Regions from separate parts of the Homo sapiens genome. Here region 1 is linked to region 2. The links come from fine-mapping of genetic effects on gene expression. A gene starts in region 2. The other region holds a variant in brackets. All regions are shown on one strand. Distances are from middle to middle.

The links. PIP is the estimated chance that this variant, and not a neighbour inherited with it, causes the effect.
Region 1: its variant is fine-mapped to the expression of GCSH in visceral fat (GTEx, PIP above 0.99). The same link has a PIP of 0.9 or more in subcutaneous fat.

What each region holds. Positions count from the first base shown.
Region 1 is chr16:81,135,914-81,138,817 of GRCh38, forward strand. It overlaps the pseudogene PKD1L2. Among named protein-coding and RNA genes, the nearest start is that of GCSH, 41 kb to the left of the region's middle. RefSeq lists an enhancer at 1,633-2,250. The variant G/A (reference allele first, on the strand shown) is at 1,223.
Region 2 is chr16:81,095,169-81,098,072 of GRCh38, forward strand. It overlaps GCSH (glycine cleavage system protein H), which reads right to left and starts at 1,227. Exons shown (of 5, transcript NM_004483.5): 1 at 963-1,227. The coding sequence starts at 1,110. RefSeq lists silencers at 644-1,313, 1,464-1,563.

The DNA of each region.
Region 1 (2,904 bases), 41 kb after region 2:
ATCATTCTCATATGTAAAGCCCTTCCACATCCCAGCCTTGCCCCAGCTCCTATAAGACCCTGACAACCTGCTGCCCACCCCCTCTACCCTTATCTCTAACCATTCTCCCCCACCCCCAACTCAACATGCTCCAGACACACTGTCAATGGTTGCTATAAAATGGCTGCAATAAAACGACACCACTGTCCCACCTCGCGGCCTTTGCAGGTGCTGAGTGTGCAGTCCTTCCCTTCCCCCGTTCTCAGCAGAGAGGTTAGGCACCACCGCAGCAGAGAGGCCTGCCCTCTCTTGATCTTCCCCAACCCTATTTCTTACCATAATTCACACTTATATGTCTACTTGTGCATTTACCTGGTTGATGCCATCTCCCCAAATGGGCTGTTCATTCCAAAGGCAGCAACCTGTGCTGTGTTGGCAGGGACTGGGGTTGGAAGTGGGGATTGACTTTACATGGGCAACAAAGAACCTTTTGGGCTGACGAAGCTCTTCTAAATGTGAATTGCAGTGATGGTTACATAACCCTATACATTTACTGAAATCAACAAATTGTGCACTTACAATGGGTGAATTTTATGTAAATTATATTCCCAAGCCATCACAAGGCCTGGCCCGCAGCCAGTGCTCCCTGAGGACTTGCCAAAGGGGTGACTGAATGAATATTTAATGGTCTGGAGCCTAGCATCTCTGTGGAGAATTGAGAAGATTTTAATGGACCTCTCAGATCTGCAAATCTAAAACGCTGTCCTGGAATGGAAGAATACAGGCCCTGAAGAGGTAGCCACATTGCACTGTGAGGCACGTGCATGGCATTTGGTTTGTTTGTTTCTATTTTATTTTCCCTGAAAGGCAAGACCATTGCCTCAATGATTCCACGTTGATTCAGTTTTATTTGCATGTTTGTTTTGTCATTACTGTCACCACCCTTGGGAATTTTGGTTGGGAAGTGAGAAGTCAGGCTGGGAGGATGGGGACTGGCCAGTGGCCTCCTAGAGCAGGGGTGAGTGTGGCCGTATTTCAACAAACCTCTATTTACAAAAACAGGCAGCAGGAGACATGTGGCCCCCCAGCTGTAGTTTGCAGAGCTTTGTCCTAAAATTCTAATTTGCGGCCACTTTTTGCAGCCTCCTGTAAACCGATTCTTGTTTTAGTTTCTGTTCTAAAGCCCAGGGCCCTGAGTCTCGGAGAAGAAAGCTGCTTGCTTGGAATTACACAGAGAAGGACC[G/A]CCCATGTGGACAGCTTCGTCCCTGAGGCAACTCTTCTAGCTGGCAGGTCATACTTGGGTGTCATGGAGAAATGCCAGGGAACGAACAAACACAGATACTCAGGAGACAATGGAGTCACTTTTTTCCTGGCTCTTTTGGGGATGGCTCACAAACTGGGGGTGAAAAGCTGATGAGGAACAAAGGTCTGGGGAGCTGGCCCAAGGCCCAGGACCCCCAACAGGCTGCACTCTGCAGGGCTCACTGAGCCTCATCAGGGCCGCAGCTGGCCAGACCCTGCCTCCAGCCACCGAGGCACATTACCTGGGCCCAACAGATGTCCTGGCAGCGGGGCCACAGTATCCTCCTCATCGTCCACTCTCTTCAAGACCAGTGCAAAGAAAGCAGCGAATCCCAGCACCTGAAAAATACCCAGGGAGGTCCTCGAACCCACTCTGGTAACTCTCAACCCCTCATCTGCGAGCACGTGGGGCTTGGGGCCACGTTTGTATGTTGGGGAGGGCCCTGTGTTTTGGGGGAATGCAGCTCCCTTCTGCAGAGATGGGAGGTGGTCATGAAGCTGGACCGCAAGGCCTTGGCTCGCAGACCAGATGGGGGACTGGCCAGTCCTAGAACTCCCCTGAGCCTTCCCACCTACTACCGCTCACCTGTCTGAGGGGTCTCTGATCTCTCCGCAAGGAGAATTGCTCTCCCCCAGGGCTTTCAGCACAGGGATCCTGCCCCACCCTGCTCCTTCCCTTTCCTCCAGTATTAAGTAATGCGCTCAGGTGCAGGGTCTCAGCTGCAAGGCCTCAGCCACGTGATCTCTGCGCCTGCTCCACACAAACACAGGAGGATCCTGTGGTTCACTTGGGGAACAGAAAGGCTCAAGACGCAGCCCTGTTCTTAGTATCCTGCGAGCCTAGTGTTGAAGGGAGGTGTCGGATGCTTTTTGAGTCTTATGGTAAAGGCTGTTCAGGGAAGAATGGGGGACGAGAGGGGATTTGGCAAAGTCCCATAGGTGTAAAGATGAGCTTTGTTTTTTTTGAGATGGAGTCTTGCTCTATTGCCCCAGCTGGAATGCAATGGCATGATCTAGGCTCACTGCAACCTCCGCCTTCTGGGTTTAAGTGATTCTCCTGCCTTAGCCTCCCTAGTAGCTGGGATTATGGGCACCCACCACCACGCTCGACTAATTTTGTAATCTTTTTCTCTTTTTTTTTTTTTTTGAGATGGAGTTTTGCTCTTATTGCCCAGGCTGGAGTGCAATGGCGCAATCTCGGCTCACTGCAACCTCTGCCTCCCGGGTTCAAGTGATTCTCCTGCGTCAGCCTCCTGAGTAGCTGGGATTAGCTGCGATTACAGGCATGCACCACCACACCTGGCTAACTTTGTATTTTTAGTAGAGACAGGGTTTCTCCATGTTGGTTAGGCTGGTCTTGAACTCCTGACCTCAAGTGATCCACATACCTCAGCCTCCCAAAGTACTGGGATTACAGGCGTGAGCCACCGCGCCCAACCAAGATTTGCTTTAAATATCTCCTCCTTTCGGTGGCTTCCCCTACACCCCAATCCAGTATCTCTTCCCCTTAGGGGTTCCCCAGGGATTGCCCACTGCCCGACTCCTTCCAAGGGAAACTGTGCCCCTTGCCTCCTCTGCTCTACACCTGGATTTAGGATTTCTTTCTTTCTTTCTTTTTTTCTT
Region 2 (2,904 bases):
AACATTCATGGGCAGGTTTCCCAGTTATTTCAAGTCCGTTTGAGTTAGGGCTCATTTCAGCAAGCACACACATGAATGATCCAATACAAACTTTAGCAGAACTTCTGTTGAGTCCAGAAGACTTTATCTTACTTGTTTTGGGGAAATAGCTGAATCTTCAAAGTTATGATTGTTTTATCTAGTAAAAAAATCTAGATCTGGCGCTTTAATTTTTTTTTTTTTTTTTTTTTTTGAGGTGGAGTTTTGCTCTGTCGCCCAGGCTGGAGTGCAGTGGCGCGATCTCGGCTCACTGCAACCTCTGCCTCCCAGGTTCAAGCGATTCTCCTGCCTCAGCCTCCCGAGTAGCTGGGATTACATGCGCATGCCGCCACGCCTGGCTAATTTTTTGTACTTTTAGTAGAGATGGGATTTCACCGTGTTAGCCAGGATAGTCTCGATCTCCTGACCTCGTGATCCGCCCTCCGGCATGAGCCAACGCGCCCTGCCTGGTGCTTTAATTTTAATAAGCGCTTCTGTTTTAATTTTACTTCGGAGTTCTCAGTAACGGTCCATTTAGTAAACTAAAGGCCTCCCCATTTGGGGTCTCAACGATGCACGCAGATGGGAGATAAACTTAAGGCCACCGAGACGCTTAAGCGACACGTGCCTGGCTTCTGCAGCAAGCGGCCGACCTGCCCGCCGGACCCGCCGGGCCACCCCCGCCTCGGTGTCCCGCAGGCCTCCCCTCCCGGCTGCATGCAATCCCTAGGGCAAAGGCTACTCGCGGGTCCTCCCGCTACTTAAGGGGGAGAAGCGGCCGCAGAGCCAGGGATCCCAACAGAAATAAGAAGGGGGCAGGGTCCGCGCTCGCTCCGCCCCGGTGGCTCAGGAGCGGTGCCCCGGCGTCCTCCGTGTCCCGCTGGGCCCGGGACAAGCAGCCCAGGCGGGGAGGGAGCAGCCGCCCACGTGCCCGCCGCGCTTACCCGAGAGCAGAGCGGGTCCAGTGCGCAGCGTACGGACGGCGCCCACCCCCAGCTGCCAGGGCCTCGGCGGGCAGGGCGCGGCGGGTGACGGGACCGCGCGCAGGGTGCAGAGCAGGGCCCGCACGCTCCGCACCACTCGCAGCGCCATGTTCGCAGGGGTGCGGGGGTCGCAGCGCTACGCCTCGGCCACCCGCGCCGGGAGGCGGGGCGGGGAGGGGCAGTTCGCGGCCGGAGGGAGCCGGCTGGATGGAGGCGCGGAGGCGGTGCCGCGGGGGCGGGACAGAGCCTGACTGGGCAGAGCGTGGAGGGCGGAGACTCCCAGGCGAGGGGGCGAGGCAGGGTCTGATTGGCCAGCACGCGGAGACTGGGGACTCCAGGGCCTGGCGCGACCTCGGATACGGCGACGCGAAAGAGGGGCGTGGGCATGGGGAAGAACCTGAGGCCCGGAAGAGGCAGCACCGAGAGGCGGAGACTAGCGCGGCGGGCCTGGGTATGATTGGGCTGCCCGCAGGAGGGGGGCGGGGCCTAGCCCCAGACTGGGTTCCTTTCCACATGTGTATCTCTTTTACTGCCTCTGTCATAAGTTTTCAAAGGTGGTTTCACCACCTCACGAAGGAATTCAAGAACAAGTCGGAAAGTCGTGAAAGTACAGAGGTTTACTGCAAAGTACACACTGAAGAAAGGGCGGACTCAAAAGAGGGCCACACAATGGGGCTTGGGGTTTCCATCTTTATGGGTTTCTTTGAGAAATGGAATATACACAAAGGTTTCTGGAATAAGGTGGAGACTTGTCAGAACTGTGGTGCCACCCATTTTTACACCAAATATGGGTGTTCCCGGAATTGTTGTGGTGCCGGTGGGTGTGTGACTTAGTATGTTAATGAGTCCTAGGTGAAGCCTAGGTCAAAGCCACACCACGTTGGGTCCAGTTGGTTTTAGCCAGGTTGACCCACACCCTGGTTTTTCAGGGTCTTAGCCCATAGCTTGTGCAGCTATTTCAACAGTTTCCTTTTGTTAGACAGAACTGCAGCCTGGAAGTTTCTATTCTCCTTCAACTGCTCTGTAACGTTCCTGTCTCAAAGAGCCCCAGGGACCCCAAACAGGACCGGCAGAATCCAGAAGCTTACTTAAAAAGGAATAAAGACTTGTCCAAGGGTCATAAGTGGCTTCTTGGTGGAGACTGGACCCAAGCCAGTCACTAATGCAGAAATATTCAAAACGCAGAGAGCTGAGACCCAGTGTGCACAATTCCTTGTTTCATCGGCCAGCGGTGTGACCAAGGCCTTCCGAGAAAAGCCGAAGTCATCATCCCAATCCAAGAAGTCAGAAAAAAATTAGGTTCTGGGAAAAACCTCACCTTTAACACAGATTTTATGGAGTGGCCATGAGTCAGCAAAGAAATACTGTTCTGAAAAACACCTTAAGCTACACACACACCTTTAGTACTGTTACAGAAAGGGCTCCCAATCCAGACCCCAAGAGAGGGTTTTTGGACCTCATGCAAGAAAGAATTTGGGGAGAGTCTATAAAGTGAAAGCACGTTTAATAGAGAAGTAAAGAAAAAAAAGAATGGCTTCTTCGTAGACAGAGCAGCAGTATGGCTTCTCGACTAAGTGTACTTATAGTTATTTCTTGATTGTATGCTAAACAAGGGGTGGATCATTCAAGAGTTCTCCAGAAAAGGGGCAGGGATTTCCTAGAACTAACGGTTCCTCCGCTTTTTGGACTATAGGGTAACTTCTCTGGACGTTGCCATTGCATTTGTGAACTGTCATGACGCTGGTGGGAGTTGTTTTTTTTTTAACATGCTAATGCATTATAATTAGCGTATAATGAGCAGTGAGACCTACCAGAGGTCGCCATCTTGGTTTTGGTGAGTTTTGGCCAGCTCCTTTACCGCATCCTATTTTATCAGCAGGGACTTTGTGACCTGTATCTTGTG